2 separate regions of the Homo sapiens genome follow, and region 1 is linked to region 2. The links come from fine-mapping of genetic effects on gene expression. A gene starts in region 2. The other region holds a variant in brackets. All regions are shown on one strand. Distances are from middle to middle. Region 1 holds the start of ORC1 (origin recognition complex subunit 1). Region 2 holds the start of TUT4 (terminal uridylyl transferase 4).

Region 1 (15,338 bases), 150 kb before region 2:
TCTCTTTCCATCCAGGAAAACAGAAAGGTCAATTCCTAAGAAATGAAACTGTAACATTTAGAAATACTAGGAATAAGGCAGAACAATAGGTGTAAAACATCTAACAAAGTGAAATTAAAAGACAGTGATACAGGGGTTGTAAATGTCTTCATGACGCTTATAAAATGCACACAAGGATAAAACAGAAATACAAAGGCTGGGCGCAGTGGCTCACGCCTGTAATCCCAGCATTTTGAGAGGCTGAGGTGGGTGGATCACCTGAGGTCAGGAGTTCGGGACCAGCCTGGCCAACATGGTGAAACCCCGTCTCTACTAAAAATACAAAAATCAGGTGGGCATGGTGGCAGGCAAATCACTTGAACCCGGGAGGTGGAGGCTGCAGTGAGCCGAGATCGCAACACTGCACTCTAGTCTGGGTGACAGAGCAGAACTCTGTCTCAAAATAAAAAAAAGAAAAGTAGATGTTATTATCACTTCAAGGTGATAACTTATCCTATCTTATACAGGATGGCACAGCCTTAACTCAAACCCGGAAAAGCCAGACTGCAATTACTGTGCTCTTAACTACTTCACCTTACAACACACTGTGTGAAACTGGATAATGTTAATATGTAACTGAGAGCTTGCTTTTGGTGTACTTATTACAATAAATCAGGCTTCCCAGCCACTGACTGAACATTGTGGATTGGGCCTCAATTTGCTTACCCACAAAATGGAGAAAATAGAATCTTCCGTTTATTCAACCAATATTTATTAAGTACCCATCGTGTGCCAGGCACTATTTTAGGATAATGGAAGATTAAGTGAAAAAATGCAAAATGGTAAATCCACTTTCCCACTACCTTAATCCCTTGCATTTATTTGTAAGGTACAGTGGTTTTATTTATTAAGTATCATTTGATGAATACTATGGAACTAACATAATTCAAGCAAAATTTTGCATTCAATTTCGGCAGATTCACAAACCTCCTAAAGTCCACATATTGCCCTCCATTAAAGTTAAAAACTGTTGCAAAGGGACTTAAACCATTCTGTCATATTGGAAACTCCTTTGGCATTTCCAGCCCACCTAACACAGCAGAGACGAGGGTACTATTATTCATGTGTTACAGACAACTAGAATCGTATATAATCATTGCAGTTTCACAAATAGATCAGGATAAGAATGCCTTTTCCAACTGTCACAGCAGAAGACTCTTCAATTCCGGGGTTAGAAAAGAGAAGTAGGAAGGGGGCCACCAGACTTCTCTTCTGAAAAGAAGGTGAATGACAGACAGCCCAGCAGTTAGGAGCTCATCTGAAAAAAAGATCTGGGTAGGAGCCCAGACTGCTTAGTCACGAAAAGCGACCTAAGACACGTCCCTCCCTGGGCGCAATTTACGTCCGTAAAATGGGGTAATAACCTCTGCTCCGCCTTCCCTGTAGTGGTTCCTACACTATAGCTCAAAGAACGAAACAAGTAGAGTGCTTTACAAATGCAGATGGAGGGAAAGTCATCACTGAGCATCAGGGTGCGGAGGGCAGGAATGCTCCTGCTTCTAGGCTGTTGGCTTCCGCCTTCCCCCCTGCAAACTCAGTTCCCTGCAGCGCGGGAAGCCTTTTAGGAATCGGAGTGTGGAACAGAGGAACGCTCTTAACAGTTCAGAACAGTGCCTGGCACTGAACAGGCGCTTGGTACATGTCAGCTAAAAGAATCAATGACTGAGTCTACAGAGAACGTCCTCAGTTTCAGAGGTTCCGATGCGCCCTCCCCCGAGTCCCTCGCAGCCCGCTGGACGCCACACTCACCCGGCTCCAAAGCTTCCTCCGGCTAGCCGCAAGCCCTCCGTTTCCTACCGCCTCCACTTCGAGAGCTCCGGGGGATGCGGCACCTCTAACCTGCACCAGCAGGGCTCCTTCTACAACTACGGGCCGAAAGCCAGGACCAAAGCGTGTGTCTCACTAGAAATGAAAAGAAGGTGGAAGGAGAAAAGAAAACTTCGCGCCAATCGGCGTGGCCCCGCCCCCAGACCGTCCCTTCGTTGCGACACCAACTAGCTCGCCCCGCCCACTCCGTACACCTAAGAGGGGCGCATGACGTACATCCGCTAACATGCAGCCGCCATCATTGATTCGATAGGCGACGCGGGGAGCGGAAGCCCTTTACACTACGGTGTTTCCGGCTTCAAGATGGTCGCCTAAGCTGTTTAGTGAAACTTCTTCCACCTTTCTCCATTCCTCTAGGTGCTTTTTCTGAACCTGGATGTGAGGCATTAAAGGATCCGACGGAAATAGAATTGAAGGCATTCTAAAATGGCTAACCGTACAGTGAAGGATGCGCACAGCATCCATGGCACCAACCCTCAATATCTGGTGGAGAAGATCATTCGAACGCGAATCTATGAGTCCAAGTACTGGAAAGAGGAGTGCTTTGGACTTACAGGTAAGTGGAAGCGCGCGGAGCGCCTCTCAGCCCCCTTGTGGCCCATTTCTCCTGACCGAGCGCGGGTAGGACTAGCGACTGGCCTCTGGGGGTGGTACTGGAACGGAGTATGTCGATCATTCAGAAAAATTTTGAGTGCCTGCTAAGTGCCTCGTCTTGTGTTGAGTATTAGAGGCACAGATGAATCTGGTAAGGTCATATTCTGAAGGCTGTCTCAGTTGGGTGTTGTGAGTTATTCCGTATTTAATGATAGCAGGCTGGGTTGCAACAGTGTTAAGCTCAGGGATCCGGATATAACACTTTGACACAATCTGTTGAAGGTCTTTAAGGACCTAACGTTAATATGCCTGAAACCAAATTCATGATCTTACTATTCTTAGATCTGGGCCGGTTCCAGTATTTATAAATATCAGTGCTTCAGAGAAGTCTTCCAGGTAATCTTCCGATTTGAATTGTGGCTTTAAATCCATGTCCTGTGACAATCTGTGGACCTTGAGCAAGTCACTTTACCTTTCTTAGCCCTCATTTTCCTTACCTGGAAATAAGAACATTGCTAGAACTTTCTTCATGACTTGTTAAAAAAGGTTAAGTGAGATAATATGAAAAGCTTAGCAGGGTACCTATTTTATTATCCATTCTCAATGTATATTAGCTGTTGTCGTTACTGTTATTAATACACATTCGTTCTCCTAATATTACACTGTTGATGTATATTTAGGAGAACCAAAGCTTGAACTAACTCCACTCCAACTAGGAAGAGCTTAGCCCTAATATGTTACTGTATTGTTTTTGTTTTTTAGCTGAACTTGTAGTCGATAAAGCCATGGAGTTAAGGTTTGTGGGTGGCGTCTATGGTGGCAACATAAAACCAACACCCTTTCTGTGTTTAACCTTGAAGATGCTTCAAATTCAACCCGAGAAGGATATCATTGTAGAGTTTATCAAAAATGAAGATTTCAAGTGAGTGCAATGTTCACTAGCTAATATAAGAGGTTTAATTTTGGCGGTTTAGAATTGGGCTTTGGTTAAGAGGGGTGTACACAATGTATCTCATTTCTAGAGAGTTCCACTCCAGATTTTTGCTTTTGAGCCCTTGAGTTTGTATTTTTTGTTTGTTTTTTGTTTTGGAAACAGAGTCTCTCTGTGTTGCCCAGGCTGGAGTGCAGTGGTGCGATCTCGGCCCACTGCAACCCCCATTTCCTGGGTTCAAGTGATTCTCCTGTCTCAGCCTCCCGAGTAGCTGGGATTACAGGCATGTGCCATCACGCCTGGCTAATTTTTGTATTTTTAGTAGAGATGGGGTTTCACCATGTTGGCCAGGCTGGTCTCGAACTCCAGACTTCAGGTAATCCCCTCCCCCCCCGGGCCTCCCAGAGTGCTGGGATTACAGGCATGAGCCACCACACCCTGCCAAGTTTGTATTTTATCTGTTCTGATTGTATTAATCTTCTACTTTACTTTCTCAGTTTTGGTAATTTTTCCCTGAAAAAGGATTTCACAGATTCACTAAATACATATTAAGCAAAAGTGAGTGCCTGATATGTTGGTAGGCACTGGACGCTCAGGGGTGAAAATCAAACAACAAAAGGTGGTGGTTAAGAGGTGTAAGATCTGGGTTCACATCCAGATTCTGTTGCCCATTAACTATGACATTGGA[GA/G]GGTTACTTAATTTTCTAAACTTTGCTTATCTGTAAAATGGTGACTATAATATAAGAGTGAAAGAACGTAATGCATGCAGATCTCTGAACACAGCACTTGCTGCATGGTAAACACCTAGAAAATGTCAGCTTATTACCGTATTACCGATTCTCGAGGAAATCACAAACAAGTATAGGAGACAGACATAATAGCTTCTTATGTGCCATGCTGTAAGGGCTTTGCATATAATAATTCATTTCACTTTCACAACAACCTTCTAAACTTTTAATCCCTATTCTACAGGAGAGGAAACTGAGGCACAGAGATTAATTAATTTTGCCCAAGTTCAAACAGCTAGTAAGTGGCAAATCTGGCTTCAGAGTTCATATTCTTTGCTACAGTATTCTGCTTCTCGTACAAAGAAACTATGACTTTCAAAAGCCTCCTAGTTACCCAAGAGGAAATTTAAGTAGTTAGATATAGGAAAAAGGGAAGAGGAACAACTCTTTTTTTTGTTTGAGACAGAGTCTCGCTCTGTTGCCCAGGCTGGAGTGCAGTGGCGCAGTCTCGGCTCACTGCAAGCTCGGCCTCCTGGGTTCATGCCATTCTCCTGCCTCAGCCTCCCAAGTAGCTGGGACTACAGGCGCCCACCACTACACCCGGCTAATTTTTTGTATTTTTACTAGAGACGGCATTTCACCGCGTTAGCCAGGATGGTCCCGATCTCCTGACCCGGTGACCCACCTGCCTCGCCTCCCAAAGTGCTGGGATTAGAGGCGTGAGCCACCGCCCCTGGCTGGAACGACTCTAATAAAGCATTAACAGCTAGAAAATACCTAACTTTTGTTAGGCACTTACTGTGTGCTCTGTGCTATACTTAGCACTTTCAATGCATTTCTTGTTTATATACCAAGCCATAAATTAGGTAGCATTATCTCCGTTTTACAAGGATTGAGAAAACACATGATTTGACCAGTAGTGTCACAGACTTAGTAAATTACGGAGTCAGAATTTGAACCCAGATGACTTACTTTTTTCCAAAACCAGCAGTCATGTTTATGTGTACTTGTTCTTGTATTGTTATTAAATATATCTTCTTTCTGTTTTAAAATTCAATATATGGCCAGGTGTGGTGGCTCACACCTGTAATCCCAGCACTTTGGGAGGCCAAGGCAGGTGGATTGCTTGAGGTCAGGAGTTCAAGACCAGCCTGGCCAACATGGGGAAACCCCGTCTCTACTAAAAATACAAAAATATGCCAGGCATGGTTGCTAACACCTGTAATCCCAGCACTTTGGGAGGCCAAGGCAGGCAGATCACCTGAGGTCAGGAGTTTGAGACTAGCCTGGCCAACATGGCAAAACCGGTCCCTACTAAAAATACAAAAATTAGGCTGGGTGTGTTGGCACATGCCTATAATCCCAGCTACTTGGGAGGCTGAGGCAGGAGAATCGCTTGAACCCAGGAGGTGGAGGCTGCAGTGAATTGAGATCGTGCCACTGCACTCCAGCCTGGGCAACAGAGCAAGATTCTGTCTCAAGAAATAAATAAATACATAAATAAAAATACAAAAATTAGCTGGGCATGGTGGCGGGCGCCTGTAATCCTCGCTACATGGAGGCTGAGGCATGAGAATTGCTTGATCCCAGGAGGCGGAGGTTGCAGTGAGCCAAGATCGTGCCACTGCACTGCAGCCTGGGCAACAGAGCAAGACTCTGCCTTAAAAAATAAAATAAAATTCAGTATTTCTTTTGATTCTTAGAGTAATCCTGTGAGGTAAATAGGTTTTATTCTAGTTTTACTGATGATATATTTGAAAGTTGATCAATATGTATGATGTTCCCACAGCCATAAATGGTAGCATGGGAACTTGAACTCAGGTCTCCATATTTTAGCTGTCTTTCTTCTGCTGCATTCTACCTCCACAATTGCAGCTTTCTTACCTGCCAAAGAGAAGAACATGTTTATCCACTACTGTCATGAGAACAGCTAGTTGTAAAACTCAGGAACTTCTAGGATGGCCTGTTGTTTCACTGTCATCTGTCTCTCAGGTATGTCCGCATGCTGGGGGCACTTTACATGAGGCTGACAGGCACTGCAATTGATTGCTACAAGTACTTGGAACCTTTGTACAATGACTATCGAAAAATCAAGAGCCAGAACCGAAATGGGGGTAAGTATGGTGCTAAGTCTCCTGATTGTCATTTTTAAGCCAGTTTTTATTTTACCAGTACTTCTACCTTTGCATTGTCATAGACAGTGTGAATGCTCCTTTTCATCTACATTGTTACTGTCTCTATGCAGGTTTTCCCTTGTCCCTCATGGGAGTTTTCAGTCTGACTACTAGCTTCGTGTTGGCCTTACCCAGCCTGCCTCTGTCTGTCTCCCTTTCCAAGTGCATCTTATGTTAATCCCTGCCTTGCATCATATGCCCCCTTTACATGTGCTCCATCCCAAAAGATCTAGCTGCAGAATGGCTTCTCCATAAAAACCTTCCCCAGCCCTCTCAGACAAAATTAGTTTTCCATATTTTACATCTTCACAGTTCTTTCTACTGGCCTCTCCTCTAACACTGTAATTCACACTGCAGCATATAAGACTACTCATTTTTATACAGGAATCCCACTGAAAAATAAGTATATCCAAGAGAGGCAGCTCCATACCTTCTACAAGGAGATTACTTAATGTGCTAAGGAGGGATTCCAGGTAATGCAGTCAAAACCTTTTCTCACTTGGTGTCATAACAGAAGATAGGAACATTTACCTTTCCCCCTACATGTATCATTAAACAGTAGAAGGTTAAGAATTTGGGGCCAAGCACGGTGTCTCACACCTCTAATCCCAGCACTTTAGGAGGCCAACATGGGCAGATCACTTGAGGTCAGGAGTTTGAGACCAGCCTCGTCAGTATGGTGAAACCCTATATCTACTAAAACTACAGTAATTAGCAGGGTGTGGAGGTGCACACCTGTAATCCCAGCTACTCAGGAGGCTGAGGCAGGAGAATCCCTTGAACCAGGAGGCGGAGATTGTAGTGAGCCGAGATCACGCCGCTGTATTCCAGCCTGGGCGACAGAGCAAGACTCCATCTTAAAAAAATAGAATTTGGTATTATACTTTAAACTTATTGATTCATTCATTGAATAAATACATATTAAGTGCCATTGACATGTCACATACTGTGCTATGTGGTGTAAATACCATGGTGAACAAGATGGACATGGTCATGGCCATGATGGAGTTATTTATTTATTATTTTATTACGTAAAACTAAGAATTTCTGAACCTATTGACATTTTGGGTCATATAACTTTTGTGTGAGGATTGGCTTGTGCATCATAGAATGAGTAGCAGTATCTCTAGCCTCTACCCACTAGATGGAAGTAACACCTCCTTCTAAGTAGGGGGATGGGCATGTGCAAAATTGCCCATGGTTGAGAACCCCAGAAGTAAGGTAATGTTTACCATGGAAGTTCTCAAAAGCTATATATGTATATGTATGTATGTATATATATGTATTTGTATATGTGTATATACACACACATATATATACATTTTATAATTATATTTACATACAAATATATAAATATACATAATCATATATAATTTATATATAACATAATTTATATATAACATAATTTATATATAATATAAATTGCCTGTAATCCCAGCTACCCAGGAGGCTGAGGCAGCAGAATTGCTTGAACCCGGGAGGCGGAGGTTGCAGTGAGCCAAGATTGCACCACTGCACTCCAGCCTGGGCAAAAGTGAGACTCCGTCTCAAAAAAAAATTTTTTTTCTAACTCTAGCCAAAAACAATATTTCCTTATTAAAAACACCTCAGCTCTGCCATATACTAGTAGTATAATCTTACGCAAATTACTTAAATTTAGTTTTCTCCTATGTAAAGTGAGGTTAATGATACTTTTATATATATATAGATGTATATATATATATACACACACACACACATATATATAGACATATAATTTTTTTTTTTTTGAGATGGAGTCTCACTCTGTTGCCCAGGCTGGAGTGCAGTGGTGTGGTCTCAGGTCACTGCAACCTCTGCCTCCCAGGTTCAAATAATTCTCCTGCCTCAGCCTCTTGAGTAGCTGGGATTACATGTGCCCACCACCATGCCCAGCTAATTTTTGTGTTTTTAGTAGAGATGGGGTTTCGCCATGTTGGCCAGGCCTGTCTTGAACTCCTAACCTCAAGTGATCTGCCTGCCTTGGCCTCCCAAAGTGCTGGGATTACAGGCGTGAGCCACCACTCCTAGCCAGTTCTCAAAAGCTATCACTCCATGTGCCATATAAGATACATGTTCTAAATTCAGAAACATTGAAGGTTCAGATGAGAAATTATATTTAAGTTATATGATCTCTTCAAGATCATCCCTACATAATTCAGGACTGTTTGTGCTTGTTTTTGTGTTTGTCTCCTGCTAATTGGGACATCTTCATTCATCCCTTAATCTCTTCTAAAGAGGCCTAGCACATAGATGTCCTGATATGAAGTCTTAACACTTCTTTTACTTTTTGGCATCTAAATCTTTTATTTCCAGGTTGTTTGCTCTAATGACTTTTTCTTGCAGAGTTTGAATTGATGCATGTTGATGAGTTTATTGATGAACTATTGCACAGTGAGAGAGTCTGTGATATCATTCTGCCCCGACTACAGGTAAGAAATAAAAGTCTGTTACCAGAGTCACCCTTCTCTTCCTAGACGGGCAGACAGACAAACACATACACACAGCTTAAACACTGAAGCCTGTGGATCTTATGGGTCCTCTTAATGAATAGTCTTCCTGTCTGGGAGTCCCAAGATAGTGGATTGGGAGTGAGAGGAAAATAGATAAAATATTTGAAGGGTAGGGCTTTAAAAGTGAATGGTTTAAAACAAGGAAACTTTGTTTTTCTCCATCCTTTTGTAGTTCAGGTGCATGTGTGAGTTGTGCCTCCCTCAAACCTTGTTACAAAGTCAGCACATTACCTGTCTATCATGAAAAAAGAAATTTATTCAGGATGTTACATCAAGGGTATTGTAGCTAGAGTAGGTAGGGAGTTTTTAACTTCATGAACGTTTTTTTTAAACTAATCTTCATGTAAAAAGCCAGGACATAAAACAGATAAAAATAGGGCCAGGAGTGGGAGACTGAGCCATTAATTCCTTAAACTTGCCTTCACCATCCTGCTTCCCTTTCCTAGTGATAAACGATTATCCATGAGGCATCTTTTCAGGAAATGAGTGTGATACAGCTCTCCTGTTCCATGTTGGCACTGTAGGGCATGTAGTGGAAAGAATGAGATTATAAATTTGAAAACCTACTTTGAGGGCCCAATTCTTATAGCAAGACAATGTCTTGCTGTGTTGCCCAGGCTGTTCTTAAACTCCTGGGCTCAAGGGATCTTCCTACCTCAGTCTCCCAAGGAGCTGGGACCACGGGTACATGCCACTACATTTAGCCATTTGGCATTTTTGAAATCAGCTTTGCCTCTCTGATCCTTAGCCACTCAAATAAACATTGCTAAGCCATATCCCAGATTAAAATGGAACCAGTTCAAAATGCATGAATATCAACAGCTCCCGAGATCCTGGGTCTACTGGAGATTTGGTACTACTCTAGGGCTAGGCCTCTTCTAGTGGAACTACCAGCCATGAACTTATTAGCCCTTGGATTTTCTCTGTGTGTGAAGCCCTTACTTTTGGTTCTAGGCTGTACCTATACTGATTGATATTCCCATGACTTTAGAGTATAAGGTACAGGGAATAGAGTCAATAGAAAATGAAGATGTTCTCTTCAGGTTTGTATTTATGTTTATAGGAGAACTTTATAGATTTCAGGTCTATTAAACTTGTTAGGAAAATCTTGAACTGTCTTTGAAATGAAATTGCCTCAGCTGTTGCTCCTTGGAACCCTGAAGCCCAGTGTTGAGGTTTCAAGAAATAGGGGAAATGGCAACAACCCCTAACTCTCATCATTTTCTCTGTAGAAACGCTATGTATTAGAGGAAGCTGAGCAACTGGAGCCTCGAGTTAGTGCTCTGGAAGAGGACATGGATGATGTGGAGTCCAGTGAAGAGGAAGAAGAGGAGGATGAGAAGGTCTGGCACCTGAGACTTTTATGGTTGTAGGGGAGGGAGTAATAGAAAATGGGAATGGTTTTTTGTTTTTAGACTTTAATTTTTAACTCTATTGGCCGGGCGTGGTCGCTCAAGCCTGTAATCATAGCACTTTGGGAGGCCAAGGCGAGTGGATGACCAGCGGTCAGGAGTTCAAGACCAGCCTGGCCAACGTGGTGGTGAAACCTCGTCTCTACTAAAAATACAAAAATTAGCCAGCGTTGTGGTGGGTGCCTGTAATCCTAGCTACCCAGGAGGCTGAGGCAGCAGAATTGCTTGAACCCGGGAGGCAGAGGTTGCAGTGAGCCAAGATCGCAACACTGCACTCCAGCTTGGGCAAAAGTGAGACTCCGTCTCAAAAAAAATTTTTTTTCTAACTCTAGCCAAAAACAATATTTCCTTATTAAAAGCACCTCAGCTCTGCCATATACTAGTAGTATAATCTTACGCAAATTACTTAAATTTAGTTTTCTCCTATGTAAAGTGAGGTTAATGATACTTTTTTCCCCAAGACTGTTAAAAGTATTAAATAAGATTATAAACTTAAAGCCCTTAGCAGAGTATTGGCACATTATAATTGCCTAATAAATGGTGGCAGCTATTAAATACTTGGAAAGAAAGAACACTTTCATAATTGCACCTATCCTAAGGAATAAACCTTGTTTAGGAGGGGGAAAATGTCAACCGCATAGTCATGTTCTTTCAGTACTAGTTACGGTGCTGAAAAGTTGAAAACAACCAAGCTGCCCAGTTGTTCCAGGAAGCAAACTTTTTTTTTTTTTGAGATAGGGTCTTGCTCTGTTGCCCAGGCTGAGGTGCAGTGGCTCACTGCATTCTCGGCCTCCCAGGCTCAAGCAGTCTTCCCATCTCAGCCTCCCAAGTAGCTGGAACTACAGGCACGTGCCAGCATACCTGGCTAATTTGTGTATTTTTTTTGTAGAGATGGGATTTCACCATGTTGCCCAGGCTGCAGATAAACTAAACATACACACATACACACACACAGGTCTGTTTCTGTTCCCTCTCCTATGAGTCATTTTGGCTGTCTTATATAGCTCATAATAAGTTTTGTTAGTTAATAGGGTAAGTGCTTCCCTCTTTGTAGTCAGGTTACTGTGCTTTAAAGTCACATGGAGATGGACTTTGGGACAAGATGGGGCGTGAAGTATAATTAGTGTTCCTAGATGGCTCTTTATAAGCCTGTGCCTTTCAATGACCCAATCATCTTGTTTCCAGTTGGAAAGAGTGCCATCACCTGATCACCGCCGGAGAAGCTACCGAGACTTGGACAAGCCCCGTCGCTCTCCCACACTGCGCTACAGGAGGAGTAGGAGCCGGTCTCCCAGAAGGTAAAGCCTAGTCATTGGCCTTTTCCCAGAAGATTTTGAGCACTGTAGCCTAGAAGTTTGGATTTTAGAGAAGGAAAAATGCACGTCTATGGAGAATGTTTGCCCAATATATTAGTTATCTGTTGCTGCAAAACAACCACCTATAAAACCTCATTGGCAGACAACAATAACCATTTGTTCCTTTCACAAGTCTGCAGTCAATGATTTAAGCAGAGCTTGGATAGGCAGTTTTTAAAGTACCTGTTCTGTTGTCGGCTGTCTACTGGCTGGTATGGAATTGCCTTAGCTTGGATGACGGGGGAAATTTCTCTTCTCTGTGTCATCCTCTAGCAGGCTAAGTTGGGCATATTCTCATGGTAGTGGCAGAACTCAAGAGCAAACAAACCCGGTCATGCAAATGTTTTTCCAGTATCTGCTTTTATCACATTTGCAAATATCTCATTAGCCAAAGCGAGTCATGTCACCAGTCCTAAAGTTAGAATGGGAGGGTGCTAGAGTTACGTGACAAAAGACATGGATACAGAGGTGGGTGATACAGAGAAGCGTGAAGGATAAGATTGGGGCCGTTTTTGCAATCTACCACATCCAGTGCGCCAACCTAGGCTTTCTTCTTCCTCTCCTCTTTATAGGCGGAGTCGATCTCCCAAAAGGAGAAGGTAGGCCTTCAGTCATTTGTGATGAAGGATAGGGCTTTGGGGAGGGGGTGGTGGTATTGGTGTTATATGTATATTGCTAACCAGATCTGGTAGTCTGACCAGTCTTTTCTACAGCCCCTCCCCTCGCCGAGAAAGGCATCGGAGCAAGAGTCCAAGACGTCACCGCAGCAGGTCCCGAGATCGGCGGCACAGATCCCGTTCCAAGTCCCCAGGTAAAGCTTGTGGGCCTTTTGCCACAGGTTGTCTTAACAAAGAAATGTAAAAGGAGTAGTTAGCCTCCTGCAGTACAGGAGTGCCTGACTGTACTGCCTAACAGAAAAGCAAATGGACATAGAATTTGAAAATTAAGGTTCACAGCTTGACTGTCACTTATAAGCTTTGCTGATAAGGTTTGCTTTAGTTTTTTCATCTAAAATTGGAGGAATAAGATCTAACATAATAGTGAAAACCCAATATGATGTTTGTGAAATTAGTCATAAAGCCCTTGAATGTATATGTATTTGAACTGGTTTCATTACTACTTTCTTTGCTCCCTCTTCCTCCACTAATTCAGAGTTGCTTCCACTAAGAGGTGTCCCCTGCATAGGCCAAAAGAATATTAAGCCAATGGCAGGTATTAGGGGAGGTGAGAATGACAGTTTAATAAGAGTAGAAGGGTAGGATCTTATGCAATGGCCTTTTCTTCCCCAGGTCATCACCGTAGTCACAGACACAGGAGCCACTCAAAGTCTCCCGAAAGGTAATGAATTGACCTCTATTTTAACTTTACAGAAATAGTCCAAATTACAACTAACTGGACCTGAAATTTTCTTGTTTTGTTGGGGGATGTTAGGAATTCTCCTGCATTACAAGACAAAATTGGTCTATTGCTTTGAGAATTACTGGGGTTAGATAACTTTTTCTTTTTTCTCTTTTTTGAGAACTGAGTTTCGTGCTTGTCTCCCAAGCTGGAGTGCAGTGGCGTGAACCTGGCTCACTGCAGCCTCTGCCTCCCGGGTTCAAGCTGATACCTGTTTTGCTTTACAGGATTGCAGCTTTGGACAATGGATGAGCTTTGGTCTCAGAAAACATGGGGTTTAGTCCCAAGTTTTAAAACTTAACAGTTGAGTGACCTTGGACAAGTCACTTTCATTTGATAAGATTTCATTAGAAACCCCCATGTGCCATATACCGTTGGGTGCACTCTTTTTTTTTTTTTTTTTTTTTTTTTTTTGAGACGGAGTCTCGCTCTGTCTCCCAGGCTGGAGTGCAGTGGCGCAATCTCGGCTCACTGCAAGCTCCACCTCCTGGGCTCACGCCATTCTCCTGCCTCAGCTTCTCGAGTAGCTGGGAATACAGGTGCCCGCCACCACCCTTGGCTAATTTTTTATATTTTTAGTAGAGACGGGGTTTCACCATTTTAGCCAGGATGGTCTCAATCTGACCTTGTGATCCGCCCACCTCGGTCTCCCAAAGTGCTGGGATTACAGGCATGAGCCACCGCGCCGGGCCTGTTTGGTGTACTCTTAACCTCTAAGAGGTCATTTCCTCAATGGTAAAATTTGGATAGTAATGCCTGACTCAAGAGTGTTGCTCTGAGTCAAAAAAATACCAAGCAGTTTAATGAATATTGAGTGTCAGCTCCATCCCCATCAATGTCAGCATACCAAGGTCTTTCTCAGGACTCCTTTTTTTTTTTTGAGATGGAGTCTCACTCTGTCATTGAGGCTGGAGTGCAATGGCCCAATCTCGGCTCACAGCAACCTCCACCTCCCGGGTTCAAGCAATTCTCCTGTCCCAGCCTCCTGAGTAGCTGGGATTACAGGTGCCCGCCGCCATGCTCGGCTAATTTTTGTACTTTTAGTAGAGACAGGGTTTCACCATGTTGGCCAGGCTGGTCTCGAATTCCTGACCTCAGGTGATCTGCCTACCTTGGCATCCCAAAGTGCTGGGATTACAGGCGTGAGCCACCGTGCCTGGCTGCTTCTTAATATAATTATTTATATGTGTTGCCATTTCAGGTCTAAGAAGAGCCACAAGAAGAGCCGGAGAGGGAATGAGTAATGGACTCAGTTTGGTTTTAGTCCACATGGCCTCCTGTGGATATAAGGATATCTGTATGTGGAAGGATTAAGATCTCCCCCAGGCAGCTATAAGAATATTTTAGTTTTTTTCTTATCAAGTTTCTCAACCTTTATTTTTAATGAAGGAGGTGCTGAGTTTTGTATCTTTTTAATCATAATCAACATCAGTTTTTGACCCAACTAACCTTGACTGTATTCAAACTTATGAGAGTATAAAGGATCTGGAGGTTGGGGATATGACTGACAAGGAAAGGCTGTGGCCACCTGATGACCCTTTCCCTTTTTATTAAACCGGACACACCTGTTTCCCATTTCGCTGTAGTTTAGTTTTTGGTTTGTTGTGGTTGGAACTGCTTTGAGAATCCTGGGATTTGTGCTGCTGCTGTTATTCAAAGATCAAAGGAGTAAAACATAGTTGCTCCTAACTTTTTTCCAGCAGCAGCAAGTGGTAATAAACATGAAAACTGGTTTGTAGCAGTTTTGAAAGAATAGAATGCATTCAAATGTAAGGCTGCTTCTGGATCATTAAAGCCAGTTTCATCAAACAGTTCAACAGAGAGCAGCACTTAATACCCTTTATACAGCCCATTTTTTCATAGTTTCATTTGTTCTTGCCCACAAGCTTGAAATCCAGGTTAAGGTATCCAGCCTTTATCATATAAGCATTGACATTATCCAGGCCTAGTCAGTAGCAGTAGGGTAACGGGATTGAAAAAGATTTGATGGAGAGGAAAGTATCTAATATTAGTCATGGTTTTGACCTAAATTGCTAGACAGTCGTGCCATTCACAAAGTCAGAAAATACAGCAGGAAGAGACAGCTTTTAGAGGGGCAGAGAATTAGAGGATGGTGGTAGTAATGAAAATGATGCATTCAGTTTAACAAGTTTAATTTGAGACAGCTATGGTATAGCTAAAAACAAAAGCCCATAAAGTTGGAGATAGGGACCAGAGTTTAACATAGCGATCTAGGCCAGAATTGACAATGTTTAAGTAATGGTGGAATCTGTCAATAAGACTTCCCAGAGTGTTAATATATATCAGAAATGCACACAACAGAACCATAGGCAACACCAACACAGGAAG
Region 2 (14,703 bases):
TATGTAGACTGATACAAATGCAAATGTTTGATGAAATGAATGTTTAAATGAATGAATGAACAACCTTAGGCAGTTTCCCATTCTAAATAATTGAGAAAATAATACACCTGAAAAGCAACATCACATATACATTATATTAGGAAGAGAGATCTGCTTTGAAATCTAATTCTATGATCTTCAGCAAATCACTAACCTCTGTGACTCAAAGATTCCTCACCTATAAACAGGTTTCAAAGGGCTGTTACACTGAACGAGTGAAAAAAAAATGCATAAACAGTGTCTAGCGCAGTGCCTGGAACAAAACAGGCACTCTAAAAAGTTTTGGTTCCCTTCTCTCTCCCTCAACTCATAATTATAGATATCCAATGAGATGATGTGACATAAAAATAATTTGAACATAAGACACCACACAAATCTCTCACTTAAGGGGGAAAAATCCTAACATTAATCTTTGCATTTATATACCCTTTCTTCTCCTTGGGCCTGTAAGAAATACTCCGGAGGAAAAGTCGGAACCTGCTTTTTCAGAGTGTGTGGTTTATTTGAATATAGTCTGTACATAATAAAATAAAGATTTAAAAAAGGAAAGAAAAATACTCTGCAGAAATGATGGTTTTTAAACATTTCCCCCAAATTATGTAATTATTTAGGATTCTAGAATTAAAACAATTCAGTTAGTACCCAGTAAACAACTCTAATTGCTCTAAGATTAATAACAAAAAGTCTACATATCCTGTTTTAAAGTATGGTGTCCCTTTCCTTTGACTTTTTTAGGTCTTTCTGGAATTGTTCTTTTTTAGAACGTATTTCTATCCTACTGCAGTGGCTTTAACTGAATTTAACATTTTTTAATCAATTCAAGTATTTGCAATTTATTTGAAAAAGGAACACAACTCATTGAGTTCTATTTTGTCAAACAAAATGTTCTGGCATCAACATTAACAGGTAAGTATTGCTTTTTTTTTTTTTTTTTTTTGTTTAAGACAGGGTCTTACTCTGTCGCCCAGGCTGGAGTACAGTGGCGCAACTGTGCCTCACTGCAACCTTGAACTCTGGGCTCAGGCAAACCTCCTACCTCAGCTTCTGGGACTACAGACGCACACCACCACGCCCAGCTAATTTCTTTTATTTTTTGGCAGTGACAAAGTCTCACTATGCTGCTCAGACTGATATCAAACTCCTACGCTCAAGCAATCCTCTCGCCTCCACTTCCCAAAGTGCTGAGATTACAGGCGTGAGTGAGCCACCTGGCCAGGCCCTACAGGTAAGTGTTGGTTATTTTGTTTCTCTGAAACTAGAAACTTTAACAGTGAATAAATTCAAACACCTTTCTTGATCAACAGATCCTGATTTGACATTCTGTAGAGAACACAACATAATTAATGGTACTTATTTTTATGTCAAGATTAACTTTGAGATAAAAAAGAATTCTAATTACTTACTCTAAAATGAATCTGCTGAGAGCTAATAAAAATTCTCTTTAAACAGCTCTTTGTTAATCAGAGAAATTTATAATTATACATTTTGATTCTAAAAGGTCTAAAATTAAAATGTAGACACTGTACTGTTCTAGCTCCAGCAACTAAAAATAAATGTAATTTTAGGTGTCACTTAGAATTTATAAACTTGAACTTATATGCATGACAATATTTGTTAATTTATCTGTACTAACAACTTGGCCTATGACAATGAAAATACTTTAAATTTCTTTTCTGTATTTAAATGTTTGCTGGATTTAAAACATCAAATGTCATTAACTTTCACTTCCATTTCTGAATTATTTTAAGAAAACTTCATTTTTCATTTTCCACACTAGCCAAGTGAAAAACTGCAAGCAGCAGAAAAATTTATCTAAGAGTTTTAAAAGTAAGTTTCTTTTGTTTATATTAAATATAAATATTTTTAAAGCATAAAACGACTTAAAATTCTTATCTTCCCCAAAGTATATGGTTTCTAAGAAGCAATCTTTAAAAATTTGTTTATAAAAGCAACATAGCACACTAGACACTAATGAGTTATCTTAAGCACAGCTTTTTAAGAGAATCAATATTTCATTTTACCAGTTGTGACTAATCAGTACTACGATGCAGTGTAGTGACATACATGAGTTCTAAGCCTAAAGAAAATTTCAGCGCGCTCGCGCGCGCACACACACACATACACACACACACACAAAGTCGGCTTTTCTTTTTAAACCATCCCACAATTCAACACCTCTCGGTGGTATTCTCTGAATTATCATATCTGGCTGGGATTATCCAATTTTATTAGCTAACAGTTCTCATTACTTTAAAAACAGAAACAGGATATGTTCTGTTTCATCAAGTGCTACAAACATTTCGCTGCTGTAAGACTGGAGGGAAAAAATCTTTGGAAATAAAAGGCCATCTGATCCACTCGGGCTAATTACTAAATGCATGCCAACAATACACAATTCGAATTGCATTTCTGGACACAATTTAAGATCACGATAGGGCAGGTCAAATGTGTAAGGAACTACTACTTCTATCAAAATGAAGAAGCAGATATACGGTATCTAAGATCTCACGCAAAATTCATCTAAGACTTCGAAATCTTCTGAAAAGAAAATGTGTAATCAACGTTGTTAATACAACAGTAATTCATCCCATTCAAGTACGACTAGAAATCCCGCTGATGTGCTTCTTTCAGGTCTAAACATCTCATTCTTTCGCAATCCAGATACCAACAGGAGTCTGAAACCCTTCGCAGAGGCGTGCAACACACTAGGAGAGCGCTATCTGTTTACAAATACGAATCTCAGTTACCCACGTCAAAACCGCGCATTACCACCTTTCGACTGGGGGGCGGGGGAGAGAGAAGGCGGGCGAGCAAGAAACAAAATCCACACAGACACCTCTGCCTTCTCCCTACAAGGACGAGCCCGGGGAAACATTCAGTATGTATTATATGCGTGTATACATTTATATACATTATGTAGTCACCTATGTCTAAGCAAGGGTGAAAGAAAAAGGTACACATGACAGGGAATCGTAACTGGACCCAACAGAAATGTTCAAACCAATCCCGTTAACTCAAAATCCGCCCCGCTGGTCTACAACAGGTTTCGGTCCGGGACCGGGAGCCCCAGCCACAGTGTGGAGTTCGTCCCCAAAGCGCCCCAATGCCCTCCTCAGGCCGCCCAGGCCGCCGTCCCCACCTCCCTTATCTCAGCCTTCCCCTGGGACACCCGAAGCCCGTTCCAGGAAAGAAAGAAGTGTCAGGCCCCCAGGGGGCGGCTGAGACGCTCTCAGGCCAGGCCCCCGACACCTGCGAAGCGCGGCACCTGGGGAGGGCGAACCGGGGGCCGCCCGGCCTTCCCGAGCACACCCCCTCGGTACCCGACGCTGCCCCGCGGCCGGAACCTCGTACCTGCGAGGCCCGCGAGCTACAGGCGCGCGCGACGCCTCCTCATCTCAGTGGCTCCTGCTCTCCCTCCGCCTCCTGCTGCCGCCGCCGTCGCCGCTGCCGCCGCTGGAGGCCGGGACACGACTAGCTCAGGACTCCACCGCCATGTCCGCCGCGCCGCGAACTGCATTGTGGGGGGGAAGGGATGGGGAGGGGGAGGAGGAGGGAGAGGGAGAGGGAGAGAAAGAGGAGGACCCGCTGAGGGGAGGGGGCGAGGGAGAGCGGTTGCCGGGGGAGAGGGGGAGGGGAGAGGACAGAGCCTGTAATGGGGTCCTGGCCCGGGAGAGGAGGAGCTACGCGCAGAGGGAAGGGTTCAGGGGTGCCCCCTCCCTTCGTTCGGGGGGCCCCACAGGCACCGTTTACACCGGGGCGGGGGAGGGGGGAAACAGCACTGGGGGGAGGGGTCTCGTGGTGGCCGCGAAGAAACAATGGGGAGAAGGCCGAGGTAGGAGGATCGCGCACTCACACCCACGCGGAGGGAAGGGAGCGCGCGAGAGACACTCGTTAGCTCGCGAGGAGGGGGCGGGCCGCTGGCAGAGGGGAGGAGGGAGCCACCCGGGGCTCGCGGGCAGGGGCGGGGCCGCCGAGCGGAGGTCGCGAGGTCCCGCAGCCCGCCTGGGCGCCGCGGGTTAGCCGCGCTGATTCGCCCGCTTGCCGGAGTGGGTGGGGGTGGCGGGCGCCCCAGTGCTGCCCCAGTCTGGTTCCTAGTCTCTGCCGAGGCCCCCGAGCTGGAAGCCGAGCCCGAGGGCCGCCTCGGCGCCTCGCTCCCAAGGCTGCTCCCCCTGGGGAGGAAGGCCGGCCTGGAATGGGTACCCTCTGGCCTGGCACTCGGACTGGGCGTGGCCCGAGCCTCGGCGGACCCTCGGAAGCCCAAGCGGGCTTCGGAGCAACGGTAGGGAGCGGGGCAGAGGAAGCCGCCAGGGTCGACCCCCACCCACTCACCACGGCCTCCAGCCCACCGCAGCTGGACCTTTTTTCCTTTGAAAAGGCAGGCAGTTCAGGAATGAAGGAGCTCGAAGAGAAATCTCTGGAGCACTCCATCTCCCACCCCCAAAAGAGGTTTTAGAAATCATTTCTTTAGCTGCAGGCGGGCATAAAACCATCTACCATCAATGGGCCCCCTCATCCCCTTGCTTTTAACGTATTACATTCCTCTACATAATTATTTAAAGTCACGGGCGGAACGGACTTAAGGTTTTGTTAGTTTTGTTTTTTGTTGTTTTTTTTTAAGACCCCAGCCTCAGAGATTATTTAGCCAATCTCTGACCTCAAAGCTGGACAAAGCACACAACCTCTGTGCTCTGTGCCCAGTCCTTTGAGTTTGACACATGCTAGGCAGGAAAAAGGTATGAAAAGAGTGGACGTAGAGGTGAAGGGAAGATGTTAAATCTTAAGTATTTACAAGATAGTGCCTTATAAATTTTCTTATAATGTGACTCAGGCTGGGACTGGTTAGAGGTCACAGAGGGACGCTCCACTTCACGATAGCCCTGTGAGTTACGTACTGTTGCTCTCATTTACGGATGAAAAAACTAGGGTTCAGAGTTAGTGCATTTTACCCCAATCTGGCTGATGCTACAAGGCCCAGGTATAATGGATAGAGGACTGGATTTCAAGTCAAAAGAGCCCTACCTGGTTTTGGCGTTTATCAACATGATGCCTTTGAGCAAATGTACCCTCTTGAGTTTCCTCATCTGCAAATTCTTAATCTGTATCCCTGCTTCGCTTGACTAGCCTGGAAACAAAGAAAAAATCCCTACTTCACCCGGCTGAAAGCCTAAAGCCTATAGAGACACTAAGAAGATACCGACATGCCCTTCAATTCAGTGATAGCAGTGTCCTTAGAACAAGTTCAATTGAGTAAACATTTCCTAATTACTTAAGAGCAAAGCGTTGTTAGGTGCCTAGGGAAACAAAGACAAATCATTGCTTCCTGTCTCCAAAAAGTTCCCCATTGAGCAAGCAGGTGAGCTACAATAAAAGCAACAGGTCTTATTAACAAAGGGCTGGGCAAATCCAGAGGAGAGTGTGATAAATTCCACTTTGGTGAGACTTCCGTGGAAGAACTAAAAGCTGGACCTTGAAGATCTGTCTGCTGTGTGCCAGACACATGTCTGTGATTCAGAGGGCAGCATTGACTCTGGAGTGTGCAGAAGATAATGAATCTGGAAAAGAAAACTGGGGCCAGACTGAAAATTTCAGTGCCTCTCTGCCCTTATCCCCTCCAGATACTCTCTTCTACTACCTTGCTTATTCCCCAAGACCCAGCTCAACCTCTACCTTCTTTATTAAATCTTCCTGATTACCACCCCTCCTCTGCACTCCACTGAATGTGATCCCTCTATTCTCTGAATTCCGTGACCCCAATAGATTGTACACTTCAGCACAGATACTTACAAGGTATTCCTTCTGATACCTACATAGTTGTCGAGTTGAAAATTTTGACAACTATAATTTTATCATCACAGCTAGAGCAAGTATGGTTCTGACACAAAGAATAAGGAAATTTATGGAGTATAAGGTTTAATTCATGCCCAGGGTCATACAGTAAGTCACAGGCTGGACTAGAATACCAGCCCTGTATTCTTCCCATTGAACCACAGGTTTTTGAGATATAAAATGGTAAATGTCTGATTTCTATGTAAAAATCCTCTGAGGACTTAAACTTTCAAGGGAAATCTCATGATTGTGGTTAAGCCTCCAGTCTGGAAGTTCTGAAAACTTAGTTTCATCCAAACCCAGGTGAAAATAACTTGCAGTAAAAATCTTATTTCATTGTATCTCATGAGGAATATAATTACTCAGTGGATCAATATTCATATTCTGTTGTCTTCCTAGGTGAATAAGAAAACTTAGTAAAAAACTAATAATATTGAATGAAAAGGTGACTTGGTAAGTAAAATTATAACAAGAAAGGTGCCTAGTCCCAGCACTTTGGGAGGCCGAGGTGGGCAGATCACTTGAGGTCAGGAGTTCAAGACCAGCCTGGGCAACATGGTGAAACCCCATCTCTACTAAAAATACAAAAATTAGCCAGGCATGGTGGTGGGTGCCTGTAATCCCAGCTACTCAGGAGGTTGAGGCAGGAGAATCGCTTGAACCCGGGAGGCAGAGGTTGCAGTGAGCCGAGATCATGCCTCTGCACTCCAGTCTGGGTGACAGAACAGGACTCCATTTCAAGAAAAAAGAAAGGTGCCTAAGTCTGTTCAAACCAAGTTTTGCTGTTTGATCATAAAGGGCCCTGTATGCCACTGGAAAAAAAGCAGGCTTTATATTATAGTTATTGGGGAATCACTGATCACTTGTAAGCAGAGATAAATACAATCAGACCTGCTAAGCTGTTTCTCTGAGCCCCATTTTTTTTTTTCCTGTGTACTTGATTTCTCCAAGGAGAGAGACTATAGGCCCTGGGTGATAATGATCTCTAGTGAAAAACAGTGCATCACCCCCATGATGTGGTCCTAACCAAGTCTCCTTTACCTTTGTATTTTCAGCACCCAGCATAATCCTGACACATATAGAAAGCACTCAGAAATTGCTTGTTGACACTCTAAATTGTCTATAAAGCATAAGATATGGTCAGTGTCTAAAATTTTTGTGATTCTTGCAAAGATCATGACAATACCAAAGCTCTTGAGGTGTGTGCTCACCTCAAGATAGTGTAAAGGATTTACTTCTCTTTGTCTGTTTGCATTCTTAAAAGTCAATGAGATGAAAATGTGTAAAAATGCCTATTTCATAGTAAATGTTCCACACAAATGAATTCCCTTTCTTCTTAAAATTTAGTTTCTTCTCATCTGCCCCATTTGGATTTCATGTGCCCTTAGACTCACACTAGCACATGTGTGTACTTTCTACCTGTTGATTCCATTTCATCTGTCCTGAGGATTCTATGCGTGGAATTTTAAACTACAGCCACACCCTGCAGCTTACTTCATTGAAACATTAGAAACAGTCAGTTTTTCTTAAGGTGGCATTTTTTTAAGTGAATAAGATTTTAGAATTTAAAAGGACATTAGCGTTCATAAAGTTAGAGATATCAAGAACATATATACATGGCAGAAGATGATGCTATAAAGTTAGACTAGGACCGCATCATTGTTAAAAAAGCAAGTTTTTATTCTGAAGTTAATGGGCAATCATGGAACATCTGTAAACAAGGAGAGAGATGTTCAGACTTGCCTTATACAGCAGGTGTTCGTCTGACTTCTGTTTGTACATTCATAGCTATAGAGAGCTCATTCCTTACCAAATCTGCCTGTTCCAGGAAAAAGAAGTACTTCCTCAACAGAGCTGGACTTTTCCTTCTGTGATACATATTTGTTGGTAATCCTGACCTTAGGAATAACATCAGCCTTCTTTATACATAAAAATGAGGGAGCCAGGCATGATGGCTCACACCTGTAATCCCAGCAATTTGGGAGGCTGAGGCAAGAGGATCAAGGCCAGGAGCTTGAGACCAGCCTGGGCAACATGGTGAGACCCCATCTTCAAAAAAATAAAATTTGGCTGGGCACCATGGCTCACACCTGTAATCACAGCACTTTGGGAGGCCAAAGCAGTTGGATCACTTGGCAATCAGGAGTTCGAGACCAGCCTGGCAAACATGGTTAAAATTCCATCTCTACTAAAAAATACAGAAGTTAGCTGGGCATAGCACACGACTGTAGTCCCAGCTACTCAGGAGGCTGAGACAGGAGAATCACTTGAACCTGGGAGGTGGAGGTTGCAGTGGTCCAAGATCATGCCACTGCCCTCCAGCCTGGATGACAGAGGGAGACTCTGTCTCAAAAAATAAATTAATTAAATTAAATTAAAAATTTAACCAGGAATGGTGGTGCATGTTTGTAGTCCTAGCTACTTGAGAGACCGAGTTGGGAGAATCACTTGAGCCCGGGGGTGGAGGCTTCAGTGAGTTATGAATGTGCCTCTGCACTCCAGGCTGGGTGACAGAGTGAGACCCTGACTCTTAAATGTAAAAAGAAAGAAAAGGGTGTGAACCAGATAAACTAGGGCAGGAAAGGAGTCTAAAAATCCGTAATTCTTTTTTATTTTATTTTATTTTTTTGAGACAGAATCTCACTCTGTTGCCTAGGCTGGAGTGCAGTGGCATGATCTTGGCTCACTGCAACCTCTGCCTCCCGGGTTCAAGCGGTTCTCCTGCCTCAGTCTCCCGAGTAGCTGGGACTACAGGTGCACGCCACCACGCCCAGCTAATTTTTGTATTTTTAGTAGAGACAGGCTTTCACCATGTTGGCCAGGCTGGTCTCAAACTCTTGACCTTAGGTGATCTGCCCACCTCAGCCTCCCAAAGTGCTGGGATTACAGGTATAAGCCACTCCACCCGGCCAATTCTTTTTTATTTTTTTTGAGACAGGATCTCACTCTGTCACCCAAACTGGAGTGCAGTGGGATGATCACAGTTTATTACACCCTTGACCTCCTGGGCTCAAGCCATCCTCCTACCTCAGCCCCCCGAGTGGCTGGGACTACAGGCACACACCACCATGCCTGGCTAATTTTTTATTTTTTATAGAGGTGGGGGTCTCACCATGTTGCCCAGGCCGGTCTCAAACCCCCTTTAAGTCAGCTAATTTACCGCCCCCCCCCCAAGTCAAATCTCTCTCCTTTTTCTTTGAAACAAAAATGAGATCCAACTCCATTCTAAACAATCTCCCTCTGACCAATTCAAATGTATTAGAACAGTCTACACTCTGATGCACCTTTGTGCCCTACAAAATGTAATGCCCTCTCTCCAGAAATAAATCCTCACATATATGGTCAAATGATTTTCAGCAAGGATGCCAAGACCATTCAATGGATAAGAGACAGTCTTTTCAGTAAATGGTGCTGGGAGAATGGAATACCCAGATGCAAAAGAATGAACTTGGGCCCTGACCTTAGACGATATACAGAAATTAACTCAAATGGATCATAAGACCTAAAACTATAAAACTCTTACAATAAAACATAGGGCAAGAGCTTCACAACATTGGATTTGGCAATGATTTCTTGGATATGACACCAAAGGCACAGGCAACAAAAGAAAAACTGTATGAAAATGTAAAACATTTGTTTGTCAAAAGACACTATCAGAACTGGGGGCACTGGTATACACCTGTAGTCACCGCTACTCAAGAGGCTGAGTTGAGAGGACTCCTGGCTTGAGTCCAGGAATCAGACTGGGCAACAGAGCAAGAGTCAGGAAGGGAGAGAAGGGAAAGAAGAAAAGAAAAAACAAAGATATGATCAACGGAGTAAAAAGGCAACCTGCAAGATGGGAGAAAATATTTGTAACTCAGCAACCAAAAAAAATTGAAAAATGTGTAAATAACTTGAACAGATATTTCTCCAAAGAAGATATATCATCACTAATCATAAAGGAAATGTAAGTCAAAACTACAATGAGATCCCACTTCACACCCATTAGGATGGCTATTAAAACAAAAAGTTGAATACCAGCCTGGGCAAGATAGGGAGACCCCGTCTCTACCAAAACACAGAAAATAACAAGAGTTGTTATGAATGTGGAGAAATTGGAACCTTTGTACCCTCATGGTGGAAATGTAAAATGATACAGTCACTGTGGAAAACAGTATAGTGGTTCCTCTAAAAATTAAAAATAGAATTACCGGCTGGGTGTGGTGGCTCACACCTGTAATCCCAGCATTTTGAGAGGACGAAACAGGCAGGCAGATCACTTGAGGTCAGGAGTTTGAGACCAGCCTGGCCAACATGGTGAAACCCTGTCTCTACTAATAATACAAAAATTAGCCAGGTGTGTGGCATGTGACTGTAGTCCCAGCTACTTGGGAGGGTGGGGCATGAGAATCACTTGAACCTGGGAGGTGGAGGATGCAGTGAGCTGAGATTGCACCACTGCACTCCAGCCTGGGCAAAAAAAAAAAAAAAAAAGACTTACCATGGGATCCAGCAGTTTCACTTCTGGGTGTGTACCCAAGATAATTGAAAGCATGGTCTCAAAGAGATATGTGTACATCCGTGTTCACAGGAGAATTATTCACAATAGCTAAAATGTGGAAACAATCCCAAGTGTCCATTGGTGTATGAATGGATAAACAAAATGTGGTATATCCATACAATGGAATGTTATTCAGCCTTAAAAAGGAAGGAAATTCTGCAATATACCACAACATGGATGAACATTGGGGATGTTACGGTAAGTGAAATAAGCCAATCACAAAAAGACATATACTGTATGATTCCACTTTTATGAGGTGATTAGAGTAGTCAAAATCATAGACACAGAAAGTAGGATGGTAGTTGCCAGAGGCTGTAGGGAGGGGAAGACTAGGGAGTTATCATTTAATTGGCATAGAGTTTCAGTTTTATCAGATGAAGAAAGTGGGCTGGGTGCAGTGGCTCATGCCTATAATCCCAGCACTTTGGGAGGCTGACGCAGGTGGGTCTCTTGAGGCCAGGAGTTCAAGACCAGTCTGGGCAACATAGTAAGACCCCATCTCTACAAAAAATTTTTTTAAATAAGCCAGTCACGCTGGCGTGCACCTGTAGCCCCAGCTACTCGGGAGGCTGAGGCACATGGATCCCCTGAGCCCAGGAGTTGGGGCTGCAGTAAGCTCTGATTGTGCCACTGTCCTCCAGCCTGTATGACAGAGCAAGACCCTGCTTCTAAAAAAAAATCATTTAAAAAATCCTGGAGATGGATGATGGTGATGGTTGCACAACAATATGGATATACTTGACGTCATTGAACTGTACACTTTAAAATGATTAATATAGTAATTTTTTTTTTGAGACAGAGTTACACTCTTGTCACCTAAGCTGGAGTGCAGTGGCGTGATCTCAGCTCACTGCAACCTCCGCCTCCTGGGTTCAAGTGATTCTCCTGCCTAAGTAGCTGGGATTACAGGCACGTGACACTACACCCGGCTAATTTTGTATTTTTAGCAGAGATGGGGTTTCACCATGTTGGCCAGGCTGGTCTTGAACTCCTGACCTCAGGTGATCCGCCTACCTTGGCCTCTCAAAGTGCTGGGATTATAGGCATTAGCCACTGCACCCGGCCAACGTAGTAAATTTTATGTTATGTGTATTTCTACCACTTTTTTTTTGAGGCAGGGTATTGCTGTGTCATCCAGACAGAGGCACAATCACAGCACATTGTAGCCTTGATCTCCCAGCCTCCAGCCATCTTCTCTCCTCAATTTTTTAATTTTTTGGATAGGAGACAAGGTCTCACTATATTGCCCAAGTTGGTCTTGAACTTCTGGGCTCAAGCAATCCTCTGGCCTCTGCCTCCCAAAGTGCTGGGATTATAGGCATGAGCCACTGCACCTGGCCCTTACCACAATTTTTTAAATTAGAGGAAAATGTTATGCAGTCTGATGAGTTCTGGAGCTACAAAGTTCTATCCCATCAAGGATCTCTCAGAAATATAAACAGATAATAATATAACTGCCACAATAAGGATATGTATAAAGTATTATGAGTACACAAATAAGAGATAATTGATTTTGCCGGGGAGAGAATAACTTTAGTAGCTAAAGAATGATCAACAAAAATTTGGGGCCGGGTGCGATGGCTCATACCTGTAATCCCAGCACTTTGGGAGGCCAAGGCGGGCAGATCGCTTGAGTCCAGGAGTTCGAGACCAGCCTGGGCAACATGGCGAAACCCCATCTCTACTAAAAATACAGAAAATTAGCCAGGCACATAGTGGCATGTGCCTGTGGTCCCAGCTACTCAGGAGGCTGAGGTGGGAGGATCGTTTGAGCCCAGGAAGGACAGGCTGCAGTGAGCCAAGATGGTACCACTGGACTCCAGCCTGGGTGACAGAGTGAGACCCTGTCTCAAAAAAAAAAAAAAAGATAGTAAAAGACATTTGAGTCTTGAAGGGTGAGTGGACTTAGCCAGGTAGAGCAAACAGCATTCAAGACACAGAAGAGAAAAGGGGCAGGGCACAATTCAGGAACCTGCAGGTAGTTAGCATCTAGGGGTGGAGGGGCAAGGTATAGAAAATGGTACTGAGATGAGCGGGGCAAGATCATGAGGCCAGTAATACCATGCTAAGCACTTATGCTTAACTGGAAAGGTAGTCCTTCAAGGGTCTTACCCAGGATAATGATGTAGTTATATTTGGATATTTAAAATATGCTGTTTTCTTCTGGAGAGGAAACAGCAGTGTGTGGAAAAGAATAGAAGAGCCAAACTGAAAGCAGAGGAAACAGTAAGGGATTACTGCAGAAAATCAGGTGAGAGATTATATAAATAGGAGCAATAGGCCAGCACGGTGGCTCACACCTGTAATCCCAGCACTTTGGGAGGCCGAGGTGGGTGGATCACTTGAGGTCAGGAGTTGGAGACCAGCCTGGCCAACATGGTGAAACCCCATCTCCACTAAAAATAAAAAATTAGCCAGGCATGGTGGTGTGCACCTGTAATCCCAGCTACTCGGGAGGCTGTGGCACAAGAATCGCTTGAACCCAGGAGACAAAGGTTGCAGTGAGCCAAGATCGCGCCACTGCACTCAAAACAAACAAACAAAAAAAGAAGCAGTTGGAGTGGGAAAAGGGGCAGATTAGAGAGATATTAGTGATAGAATCAGTTAAGACTTAAATAATTTATTAAATGTGTTGTGGGTGGTGGAGATGAAGGTTTTCATGTAGAAGAGGTCATTCTCCTCCAGGGAGATTTCACTAGTACCAACTAGTTGTTTCAGTTCTGAACAACTAGTAGTGGCTGCTGGTGTGCAGTTTAGAAAAAGAGCCTAAAGCCCAACCTAGGCACAACAAGAAAAATTAGTGAATTAGTAATGTCTACAATGGATGCAGAATAGGAGAGAATTGACACATGACAAATACTTAACACTCCTATTCTCAGGCAGGAGAAAATTAAAAAGGTACTGTGTTTTGATGAATACGTATGGTGTGTTTCCATTTTTTGAAATTCAAGAACAGGAAAAATTAATCTTTGTTGGTAGAAGTCAGAATAGTGGTTATCTCTGTGGAGGTATAGATATGGACAGGAAAAGATATGGGAGCCTTCTAGAGAATTGGAAATTAACTAGATCTTACTGAGTCATGGTCACACGTGTATACTTATGTGAACATCCACTGAGTTATACACTTAAATTTTATACTCCTCACTGTACAAATGTTTTATGTCAATAAAAATGTGAAAAATGGGCCGGACATGGTGGCTCATGCCTGTAATCCCAGCACTTTGAGAGGCTGAGGCAGGTGGATCACTTGAGGTCAGGAGTTTGACACCAGCCTGGCCAACATAGTGAAACTCCGTCTCTACTAAAAATACAAAAATTAGCCGGGCGTGGTGGTGCAGGCCTGTAGTCTCAGCTACTTGAGAGGCTGAGGCAGGAGAATCACCTGAACCCAGGAACCAGAGGTTGCAGTGAGCCAAGATCATGCCACTGCACTCCAGCCTGGGCGACAGAGTGAGACTTCATCTAAAAAAAAAAAGTGAAAAATGTTAATAGTTAATATATGTTAAACATATAATAAATGTTTAAGGAATGGCAAGTAGTCTGATATCACATACAGAGAGGAAGAAAAAGTGGTTTGCAGACAACTGGGAGATAAAGTTGGAGAGATGGAATGACAATAGATTGTAAAAGGGCCGGTGCCGTGGCTCACGCCTGTAATCCTAGCACTTTGGAAGGCTGAGGTGGGCAGATGACCTGAGGTCAGGAGTTTGAGACCAGCCTGGCCAAAATGGTGAAACCCCGTCTCTACTGAAAATACAAAAATTAGCCGGATGTGGTGGTAGGCGCCTGTAATCCCAGCTACTCAGGAGGCTGAGGCAGGAGAATCACTTGAACCCAGGAGTTGGAGGTACAGTGAGCTGAGATCACGCCATTGCACTCCAGCCTCGGCAACAGAGTGAGACTCCGTCTCAAAAAAAAAAAAAAAAAAAAAAAAAAAGGTCTTGGGAGCCATATTAAGTCACTTGGACTTGATCCTGCAAACACTGGGGGAGCATTCAAAGTTTTGAAGTAGGGGAAATATATGCTTGTATCTCTGTTTTGGAAAGTAAACTGGGGGCAGTGCAGAGTTGGCTTTGAAGGGAGGAAGATGGAGAACAGATTCTCTGACCCAGATAGGATCTCAAACCCCATATCTTGTTGGCTAGAGGAATATCAGTTTTATATTCATCCTTGGAAATCATGAAAGGGAAGAAAATTCAATAGTTATCTATGAAAGCACTTGATGAGTGACTTCAGTAAACTTCAAATATTTTTATTTAAAATAACATAACCACATTGCAAAATTTTGAACCTAT

Evidence for each region.
Region 1: its variant is fine-mapped to the expression of TUT4 in esophagus muscle (GTEx, PIP above 0.99). The same link has a PIP of 0.9 or more in esophagus mucosa, gastroesophageal junction, pancreas, sigmoid colon, spleen and transverse colon.

What each region holds. Positions count from the first base shown.
Region 1 is chr1:52,402,458-52,417,795 of GRCh38, forward strand. It overlaps ORC1 (origin recognition complex subunit 1), which reads right to left and starts at 1,966. Exons shown (of 17, transcript NM_004153.4): 1 at 1,789-1,966. It overlaps PRPF38A (pre-mRNA processing factor 38A), which reads left to right and starts at 2,145. Exons shown (of 10, transcript NM_032864.4): 1 at 2,145-2,422; 2 at 3,223-3,382; 3 at 6,112-6,233; 4 at 8,658-8,743; 5 at 10,057-10,167; 6 at 11,422-11,534; 7 at 12,164-12,190; 8 at 12,305-12,402; 9 at 12,881-12,929; 10 at 14,191-15,338. The coding sequence starts at 2,293. The coding sequence ends at 14,233. It also overlaps the pseudogene LOC124904850. RefSeq lists an enhancer at 1,465-2,664 and a silencer at 14,400-14,694. The variant GA/G (reference allele first, on the strand shown) is at 4,080.
Region 2 is chr1:52,549,541-52,564,243 of GRCh38, forward strand. TUT4 (terminal uridylyl transferase 4) reads right to left here and starts at 3,552. Exons shown (of 30, transcript NM_001009881.3): 1 at 3,391-3,552. It overlaps LOC105378723 (a long non-coding RNA gene), which reads left to right. Exons shown (of 4, transcript XR_007066083.1): 2 at 1,140-1,264; 3 at 1,817-1,866; 4 at 2,701-3,297. RefSeq lists silencers at 3,165-3,494, 3,565-3,694, 3,735-3,844, 3,855-4,254.